2 separate regions of the Homo sapiens genome follow, and region 2 is linked to region 1. The links come from fine-mapping of genetic effects on gene expression. A gene starts in region 1. The other region holds a variant in brackets. All regions are shown on one strand. Distances are between the middles of the regions.

Region 1 (5,375 bases):
GGTCCCTGGCCAGGGAAACAGTTCACTCTCCCAGTACCTGCCCTTGTGCATTTGTCATAGGATTAGAAATGAGTAGCCAGCATGCTCATGGCCGTGTATTACAGCATAAATATTCAGAAACTTGCTTTAGACATCACTTACAGATTCTTTCCTGAAACTTCACATAGAACGTACAGAAACACAAGTATTGTGTGAAGCAGTTGTGGGGCCAGGGAGGTGCCCGGGCTTTGAGGGCACGTAGCCTTTGCCATGCAATAGCTTCTGGAATTACACGCATGGCCTGCTCCCCAGCTTCCCCACCAGCAGGGACTGGGGCGTGGACCGGGGATGGAGACTGGGGGTGGGGGTCCACCTGTGGACCTCCGATAGGAGGGAGCTGCTTGGCCCTTCTCTGGCCCATCTCTGGCAGGCAGTTGCTGGACAAACTGCAGAGGTCTCCACCTGCAGCATCCAAGGCACACAGGCTCTTCATAAAAATCCCTTTCTCCTGTCCCCTTCCAATTGGTGGCAGCTGCCACTCAGCATCTTTGGTTTTAAACAGTGAAATGGCTTCCCAGATGTCAGGGGGGAAAATCAGTGCAAGGCCTAGACTCGGAATTCCAAGTCGCCCCATCCAGATAGCTGCACCGAGAAGAGAGAAGACACAGGACCGTTTTGTCGTTTTCATTTCCGTTTTCTTTTACTAGGAAATTGAAATCGGGTTTCTGGTCTCCGCACTACGGGCTCAGAGGGTTCTTTGGTGTTGGGGAGGCATCGAGCCTTTGGTGCTGCACACACCCTAAACCCTGGCTCCACCCGTAGATGCCAAGAGCCCCCTCCAGCTGCGATCGCCAAAAATGTTTCCAGACTTTCCACCTACCTCCAGGGGCAAAATCACCTAGGATGAGAACCACATAATTCAGGGGCGTCCAGTCTTTTGGCTTCCCTGGGCCACATTGGAAGAAGAATTATTGTCTTGGGCCACACATAAAATACACCACACTAGCAATAGCTGATGAGCTAAAGAAAATCATAGCTGAGAAATCTCAATGTTTTTAAAAGGTTTACAAATTTGGGTTGGGCTGCATTCAAAGCCACCCCAGGCCACATGGGCTGCAGGTTGGACAAGTTTGAAATAAGTTATGCTATGGCAAACAATAAGCTGATATTATACAAATATTTTACTTACAAAAAAATAACTACCATAAAAAGATGTACGTGGAGGCGTGTGTGTGTGTGTGTTGGGTTGTGTGGGAAGGGGTGTGAGCATATGTGTGTGTTGAATGTGGGTGTGTGTGTGTTGGGTTGTGTGGGAAAGGGTGTGAGCAAGTGTGTGTGTTGAATGTGGGTGTGTGTGTGTTGGGTTGTGTGGGAAGGGGTGTGAGCATGCGTGTGTGTTGAATGTGGGGGTGTGTGTGTTGGATTGTGTGGGAAGGGGTGTGAGCAAGTGTGTGTGTTGAATGTGGGTATGTGTGTGTTGTGTGGGATATAAGTCTGTGTAATGTGTGTTACATATGATGCATGTGTTTATGTGTGTAGTGTGGGTGTTGGTGTGTGTGTATGTATGTATCTGTGTGTTTACATCTGTGGTGTATGTGTATGCATGTTTGTGTAGTGTGTGTTAGTGTCTGTGTATGTGTGTGGTATCTGTGTATTTTTGTGTGTAGTGTATGTGTGTGCATGTTTGTGTAGTGTGTGTTAGTGTCTGTGTATGTGTGTGGTATTGTGTGTTTATGTGTGTGGTGTATGTGTGTGCATGTTTGTGTGTGGCATGTGTTGGTGTGTGGCATTTGTGTGTTTATATGTGTGTTGTGTGTATGCATGTCTGTGTGTATATGTGTGGTGTCTGTGTGTTTCTGTGTGTGGAATATGTGTATGCATGTTTGTGTGTTGCATGGTGTGTGTATGTATGTGTGTGATATCTCTGTGTTTGTGTGTGTGGTGTCTGTGTATTCATTTTGTGTGTGTGGTGTGCACGTGTGTGGCATGCGTGTGTTTAAGTGTGTGATATATACATACACACGTGTGTGTTTATGTGTGTGGTGTATGTGTATTCATTCTGTGTGTGTGGTGTGCATGTGTGTGGCATATGTGTGTGTACGTGTGTGGTATATACATACACACATTTATGGATGGGGGTGTGTGTGTGTTGTGTGGGATATAAGTCTGATGAGGTAAAGAAGCTCCAGGAGATTCTCTTTGGTTGAATCTCATGCCATGAGACTTGGCTTCTGGCCACGATGGAGTGAGAAGCCTGGACTGACCTTTCTGCCTGGAGCAAGGGAACACCGTGTAGAACCGGCACGGCGCATCTTCCAGACGGCAGTGCCCAGGCTGCTTGGCAGGCACCCCTGCAGGAGGGGTCAGGGAGGTGGGCACCCAGCGGTCCCTCAGCACCCGTCCCGTGTGGCACAGTCCAGCCGCCTCCCAGGGCCGAGGAGGGGAGACGCAGGCTCCTGGGCTGCTCCCACCCAGGCCCCTGGAACAGCGCATCTTCTGTGACCGTGGTGAAGGAAAATCTCAGCCTCTGCTTCCCACCTCCTCAGCCCCTGCCTCAACAGGAAGCCCACAGCGCAAGAGACGCCATTCTAGGGCCAGGAAGGAAGAGCCTCAGACCCTGGAATTGCCATGTACAAACTAGACGTGTATTTATGGTGTGTCTGAATGTACAACAATTTCCTGTTTCGGAGAAAATAGTTCCTTCCTGGAAGGGCTGTTCTGTATTTGCACACTTTTCCCATGTGATTTTGGGGAAAAGTACCTGACTTTCTGTGAATAGACGCACTTTTTCTTACCGAAAATAATGATAGTTTCAATCTGGCTATAATCGTTCATATTCATGATTTTTTTCGGATGTAGAAATCAGCAGTTTTGCATTGTAAGACCTCACCCATCCACCACTCACCGTCCCCACACCCCTGGGAACAGGAGGAACCTCACAGAAGAAGAAGGTGGATTTTACTACCTACTTGCCACACCTCAATCTCTCTGTCTGTAAGCAGAGAGAATACGGTAATAATAATATTAATAATGATAATAATAATACCTTTCTCACAAGTTCGCAGGGAGGGATGAGTTCATGCACATAAAATGCTCAGCCCAGCACAGCTGAGCACACGATTCTCAGCACTATTACTTGCATTCTTGTCACTGAAAGGAAGAGGGAACGGAGTGTGACAGCGCAGGTTAGACCCCCGGCGCAGCCATCCACCTGCCACTTTGTCACAGGGACTCCACGACTAACTGCCGCCCTATTTTCCCATAAGCAGGCAATGGTGATGATAAAATCATTCTCAAAGCTTAGGGAGGCCAGGACCCAACCCAGGGCCGATCAACGCAAAGCCCTTGCTGCTTCCTATCCCATAAAACCCAATTATTTATGAATGTGAACCTAAAGCCGCATCCTAATTTAGAAGGCATGGAGATAACATGGCCAAGCAGCCGCCTCTCCAGGCAGCGAGATGACTAGGTAGGTCCCAGAGCCCTGAGCATGTCCCCTAGAAAACAACTCAAGACAAGTGCATTTGCATGCCTTCTTCTGTCTCTCTGAAATCACTCAGTTATAGTCACTCAGTGTGTGCTCACAAACACTGAGTCTCCCCTACACGTGATGCATTTCAGTACCAGGGCAATTCGAGTGAGAAACATGGCCATAGCCCCCAGCCTCTTGGACTATCAGAACTCTTAGGAAGTACAAGGATTGAAATATGTGGTCTAACAGCAGAGCGGTATTTTTCTCATTGTACCACCTTGTTGTAAAAAATTGCTGGAGCCTGAAGGAAACCACCTATGGGAAGGGTGTGAGTCAATGGTTCCCCACTTCTGCAGAGTTCCTTCTGAGCAGCTCAGAGCCCACCCCGTGTGGACACATCTCTTACCAAGATGACCTTCCCCTAGCGGGAAACGGAGGAATGAGCAGGCGGCACTCACAGTGCCAATTACAGCAAGGGGATTTGCATAGGAGACCTAACTGCCTGTTTCAATTAGGAGCAGCAACTCCCTCCTTCTTCCTTCCCAAGGAGCCAGGAACACCAGGCATGTGGGTTTGGATTTGTCTGGGAGGAGGCATGACTGTGCGCACCAGAGTGAAAGCCTCCCCACTCACACTGCTCACCTGGAGAGAGGCTCAGGGATCCTGGCAGGCGCAATGTTTGAGAAATGCCCAGGCGAAGAAGATGAATGCTTCCTTTCACCGGGCCCTCCCTGGCTTTAACTCTTCTTAGTCCTGTCTCTGGGAGACCCTGGCAGCCCCTCGCAGCTGTGACCTCTCTAAACTGTCAGCCTCAGATTAACTGATACTTCATCAATTTTGCCTGAACTGCATTTGCAACCCGGTCTCAAGAGGACAGCCAAGTGCATCAACGCTGGGCATTAACCCCCCAGAACCAGATTGCCTTCAAAACGAGGGGGACTTTTCCAATATTCTCACAGCGGCCCGGGCAACAAGCCTAGGGGGACTTTGGCCAGAGGGGAGAGAAGGGGCCTCTGATTATTCCTTGTAAATTTTTCATGAGGACATCTGCCCATACTCTGCGCCTCCTCCAGAGCTGCCCTCTCTCTCTCTCTCCCTTCCTCTGTCTCTGTGTTCAGGCCTCTGACAAGGCATGAAAAACGAGAATGATTGGGCCTCAGTCCCCATTAGCCAGGAAGTGACTGATGGGAGGATGGGCGTGTGTGGTGACTTCAGGCTTGGGAGGGGCCGGGGCTGCCGGGTTTTGAAACAAAAGACCAGTCAGGAATGGATGAGTCCTAGGTGGATCTGCAGATGGAGGCTGTGCTGTGAGTAGGTGGCTAAGGTGCACAGATGGTCATGGCTGATAGGCCAGCCTGGCCCGGGCTCCTGGTTCTGCAGACCCCAGCTCTGGGCTGGAAAATCGGTCCCCGCCTCCCCCATCTTCCCCAAGATTGTCCCCGTCCTTCCTCGGGCAGACCTTCACCGTGGAGCAGAAAGCTGCCTACAATATCGCCCAAATCAAAGCCAAGAAGAATTAGAGTGTAGGGACAGGGGAACAGGGAAGTGCTTTTTTAATTTAAATAATAAAAAATAAAAAATAGTCATTCTTTTGGAAATACTAGCAGCTTACAAGCTTTAAAATCCTCTTTCCCAACAGTTTAAATCAAAAGCCAGCAGCCCTTTCTCATGGATGCATCAAATCATGCAGATGTCCTTTTTGTGCCCCCTTTAAGGTGACATGTGCTTCAATTTATTTTTAATCTTCTAAGTGATGTCATCAGGACGCCGCCCGGGTGACACGGGAGGTGGCTGCTCCTGGGGCTGTGGGTCTGGGCAGTGCAAGCTCCACGCGCACTGACCCCATGGGCTCAACCCAGAGTCCACAGTCAGAAACCGGCCCCGGGCGGCAGGAGACGCTGCAGAGGGAGATTCCATAGAAGAG
Region 2 (5,375 bases), 25 kb after region 1:
GATTGAGGATCTGCACTTTGGAGCACATATTTTTAAAGAATGGACTCCTATTTCATTTTCCACATGGCAAGTATGTTATCCTCAGTAACAGACTAAGGTCTTTGCATGAATTATTAAAAATCCAGGGCAGAAAACTCTAGATAACTGCTTCAATTTGTCGATAGAGATGCAACTTGTGACCAGACCAAGAAGATTAGAGACAAAAATCAAGCAAAAAGAGATTCTATAGCACAGCTCTTAAAAACAACAGGCCCGTTGGCTACTTCAAACACTAACTCTCCCACCTATTAATTGCATCACCTTAAGCAAGCTTCTAAACTCTGCTCTGTGACGCAATTCCCTAGCCTGTGAAGTAGCACTGGTGTGGTCACTTATAAACCCTCCCTCCTGAGAGCATGACAAACTCCAGTATATACAGTAAGCACACAAGGCAAGGACTCTATAAATATTCTTTATTGTTAAAGCTCAATTACTTGTGAGGTAAGTAGGAGAGTTGTGTAGGATTGTGAAAGGGCTTTGATTTTTGGTGCAGACAGTCCAGAGTTTAAAAGTTGTTTCTCCCACTATCTGATCAGAGGCTCCGGAAAAATTAAAGCTTCTATACTTTAGTTTTCTAAATTAGTAAAAAGGTAAAATGCTGAGGATGAAGTCAACCTCCAAGGAGCAGTTTTAGTCGTTAAACAGACTGGTCAAAAGTTAAAGGATTAGTGCCTATTAGTGCCTTTCTCCTTTTCTCCTTCATCAAATAGTAAACTGGGAAGAGCTAAAGCAGAGATCCATAGATCTCAGAAGACGTGAGTGCATGCAGGAACGGTCTGCTTCTCATTCTTCATGTCAAATGAGAGACCAAGAACAGAGGAGGAGCTCATGCAGGCCCAGGCATGTTGCCCGGCACTACGCAGATATAATAACTCACCTTATTACAGGAGCCCTACAACACAACCCTCGTGAGATCACACAGAAGGTCTAAGTCATTTTGTTTGTCTCCTGCATGGTTCTGATGCCACAAATTATTAGGCAGTTCAACTGTAGATTTGCCAGCACTCCCCAGTCACACTCGTTGATGTGCCATGAACCTGCATGGAGAAGAGACATTCCTGAACTGTGATACAGAAGAACACAGGGCTGATTTGCAAGATCTTTTCTATCCACCGTATGCTTTCTTCGAGTCATATTTCTGTGGATTTGAACAAAGAGCTATGCACTGCCCTTGAACCCTTGATGGTGATCATCATCCGTGTCTTATTTATGTCTCTATTTCCAGGAAGAAACCCAGGGCCTGGCACATCACGGGTTTGCAATAGCTGCATGTCTGCCTGTCATTTTCCCTGAGCCTCCTCGGTTCTATATATATTTTTGCTGATTTTGTGCATATGTTGGAAAAACCCTAGAGAAGCAACAGAAAAGCACTGTTCAGCTTCTCGCTGATGTTCTGACCACGTGATCATGATCCTACACTGGGCCATGTGACTGAACTGGTTCTTTTACCTCAGCAAGTCTAATGGCAGCTGTTTGTTAAGTGCCTCCTCTCTGTCTAACGCACTTTACATGGGTTGCTCCATTTAACTGTCGCAGCCTTCTGAAGGAAGCGGTGATATAATCATCCCCATTTTACACATGAGCAAACCGTGGCTTGGGGCAGTGCATTTGCCCAAACTCACACAGTTAGCAAGTACCTGAGGCACCTGGACGAAGGAGCTGCCTTGTTTCCACTTTATTGCACAGGTTCCGTCATCTTATTTAATCTTCACAACAGCCCTATCAAGTCGCTGTTATTATCCTAGTCATAGATGGGGCAGTGAGGGAGGCTTATACACGATAGGCTGGAATTGGTACCCAGATCTTTTCACCTGAAAGCTTAGAATCTTCCATGCACCCCTCGTGGGCTGCTGTGATGAACTCCTGGCCAGGACACACGTGCCTCATGGCCTGAGAAGAGCTCACCACAGCCATCTCCACAAAATAGAATGAGAGAAGTTCAGCGCTGGAGGGAGCATAGGCGATCATACATTCAATCCCTTTGCATTAAAGATAAGGAAACAAATTTTTAAAAATGCCCAGTCTCCTGAAACCCACTTTCCATAAGGAGAAGAAAATAGAACTATATGAAGAAAGGCCAAAGATGGAACTTGTTGGTCTAAAATAGCAGTCAGAAAAGCCCAAAGCCTATCTTTGCTATGGCCCAAGTTAAAAATGGTTTTTATATTTGTAAAGGAATTAAAAACAAGCAATCAAAAAAGACGAAGAAGAAGAATAATCTATGACGGAGACCTGATGTGGCCCACAGAGTCGAAAATCTTCACTCTCTGGCCTTTCACGGAGAAAGGATGCCGACTCCCGATCTGAGCTATGGCTGCGTGTTAGAATGTCCTGGGGAATGTTTTCCAACAAGCCCATCCCCTTTTTAAAAAAATTAATAAAAAAATAAAAACAAAAGCAGAACAAACAAAATATATGCCTGTGCCCAAGTCCAGCTGGAACCAAGCAAATCAGCATCGCTAGAGATGGCAGCCCAGGTGGTGATGCCACTAAAAGTTCCCGGGTGACAGTAATGCACATCCAGGATGGAGAACAGTGGTCTAAGAAGAAAGACAAATGCCTCTTTAGGAAAAAGTTGCTGTTTTATTTAAGAAAAAGACCTCAGTGGGCCTGTGTGGCTGTGAATGTCAAGGTCCACTGGTTCAAAATGAGAAACGTTTAGAAAAAAAAAATGAACTCTTCTGATCGTAAACAACAGAAACTGTTGCCTGCTCTTGGTGGAGATATTAGACAAAGGAGAAAACACAGAGTGAGAGAAGAGAGGTTTTGAGAGAGAGAGTCGGCCAGGATGTGATGGGGTCAGGCAGGCTCAGGAGAGAGCAGCTCAGGCAGGATGGCCTGTGGTGGATTGGACTGGATTTCTAGTGGTCATTCATAAGTTGTTGCCTGTTCTCTGATGGGGCCACTGTATGGCTCCCAAATGTCAGCAAAGTCTGTTTCTCCAAAGCCTGCGTTGGTGGAGTTTAAAGAATGAGGGGAGCGAGGAGTAAAATGCTGGCTGTGGGCAGGGAACCAATGACGTGGGTGGGCAAGAATCCAGGGGCCCGAGCACCGGCCATGAGAATAAGGGCCTCCTCGGACAGAAGGGGA[C/T]GCTCCCCTTAGGAAGTGGCTTCACGCTTCGGTCACTGCATGTAGATCTTAAAGAAAGGAAATCTCCAGAAGATCGGGGAATGTGGGAGTGGCAGACTCTGGGTTCATGCACAGTAAGCAAACAACTTTCCTTTTTCCTGCAGCTCCCTGTTCCACTTTCCCAACACGTTTCAGCTTCTAGAATCCCTGTCTTTGCTCATATCATTCCCCTGCCCAGGATAGCACCCTTCTCTCAAATGATCAAAAAGACCACTTTGCTTTAAAACCAGCTCAGGCTTCATCCTATGTGCAAGAGCCTTTCTAAGGCCATCTCTGTATTTTCTCAGAAACAAAGGATATATCACTGTTTTTAAGATGTGTTATGTTTATACTTTTATTGGTCTTAACTTACCTATCAATGACACAGGGGCCTTCTCTTATGCCTGGGTTCAAAAAGAGATGCTGAGACAACAAAGGAAGATGCTCGCACCCTCAGCATCCTCACCTGCCCCCTCCTGCAGGCAGGATTCTGCCTGATGGAATCCCAGGTTTGTGAGCCAACACACAATGTTTATGATCAAATCACCAAGAAAGAGGCAGAAGGAGAGAATGAAAGCGCAACCCAATGAGAGCAGCAAGTGCAGAAGGAAGAGAAAGTGTCCAGCCTCATCTGTCTGGGGAAGCTAGGTGTGCATGCAGGGTCAGTGCAAGCATATTTGTTAGTCCCCTGCCACTGAGATGGAGGCCAACAGTTTCTACTTCTCAGAGATTGGCTCCAAATTTCCTATGCAAGATGGCCTTGGAAGAGGCAAACTGGTTGGAAGAGGGGGTTTGACATTATCATGGGGCTCTCTGCAGAAGATGAGAAAATGTCTACAATTTATATCAGAGAAAAATAGAAACAGGTGAAGACTGCTGTGGCTCTCTGAGCCTTTCAAGCAAGGTGATGAGCAGCTGACTTCGTGTAGGGGTGAAGGCCAAAGACTGAGCTAAACAAGTACATGCAAATGTGTTATCAAAACAGGGTGCAGGAGAGACTCTCTTAAGCAGAGGGGCAGAACTGATAGGGTCCGAAAATCTCATCGCAGGGCAGGAACTGCAGATCAGAAGAGGGACAGGAATCCGACGGCAGCATTCTGAGCTGGTTTCTTACAGGCTTCTTCCATGTGTTTTTGTGGACAGCATATGCCCTTTTAAAGACACTAAGCACCAAGAAAGAAGAGCCACAAATACCCGACCTGGGATGGGGCCTTTCTGCACTTTAGCACCAAAATTTTTAAAAATGAGAAACCTGGGGAGAGCAGCTGACACTTGTCAAGGTCTTACACTGCCAGTCCCTCCAGAAGTGCTTTACCCATAATGTCCTTTAATTCTCACCACAGTCAAGTGCTGTGAGTCTTAGATGATCGACAAGACGTGAAAAGAAAGCAAAACAGAGGCCTGGCCTCGGTGGAGCCCAACATCAAAGGCCAGAGCAGAAAGAGTGGTCAAGGGTGCAGGTCAGAAACAGAGGTTGGGCCACAGCTGGCCAGACGTGGTGGGGAAGGCATAGCTTCCTCAGCCTGGAAGAGCACATTCACCCACAGAGTATCCTGAGGTTATCGAAATTCCACAGGAGGCCCAGCGTCCTCTCTCCAAAGACCAACCTCCACTGCTCTTATGATTCTGCACCTATACATCCTATAGGTCCAGAATTCTGAATTAAATGTTTTGCAGCTTCATGAGAAGAGCAGTGGAAAGAATGTGTTTCCTGCTCCCTCTAGCCAGCTTCAGCCTAATCCCGATTGTATTGCCATTCTCCCACGACGGTTCTCACGTCGTTGCGAGGTTGTATCAGCTGAATGACATTCAAACTGTTTGACATGTCATACTAAGGGAAAAAACCATGCCCATGATCCATTTTCCTGTCTGTTCTCACTCCCCAGGAAAAGCAAAATGAGGAGGGGAGGAAGGAGATTGATTAGGCTCACACAGCATCACCGTGGGAAAGAATCCGAGTGTGCGGCACATGCAGGCACATCGAGCTTTGCCAATCACGTTGCCATGCCGGGCCCTGCATTAGAACACTAATTAGAATCCTCAGTAAATATTAGCACTTGACTAGCTTTAGCTTACCGATGCCAAGACTAGTTTCCTAGTAAGGAGTCTTTAGACTTGTGTAATAATAGGACTCTAAGGAGGTGACTTCTGTAAAAACAGGAGTCTATAGGTGGAGAGGGGCACACGAATTACCCAATTGCCTATTAGTCAGCTCCTCATAGTCTCTT

The links. PIP is the estimated chance that this variant, and not a neighbour inherited with it, causes the effect.
Region 2: its variant is the best candidate, but not a certain one, in a credible set for the expression of LINC00487 in caudate (GTEx, PIP 0.86).

What each region holds. Positions count from the first base shown.
Region 1 is chr2:6,767,836-6,773,210 of GRCh38, forward strand. It overlaps LINC00487 (long intergenic non-protein coding RNA 487), which reads right to left and starts at 2,476. Exons shown (of 6, transcript NR_038369.1): 1 at 2,244-2,476. It overlaps LOC105373404 (a long non-coding RNA gene), which reads right to left. Exons shown (of 4, transcript XR_922745.3): 4 at 4,988-5,375. RefSeq lists an enhancer at 5,332-5,375.
Region 2 is chr2:6,793,228-6,798,602 of GRCh38, forward strand. It overlaps LOC105373404 (a long non-coding RNA gene), which reads right to left and starts at 3,707. Exons shown (of 4, transcript XR_922745.3): 1 at 3,521-3,707; 2 at 917-1,076. The variant C/T (reference allele first, on the strand shown) is at 3,130.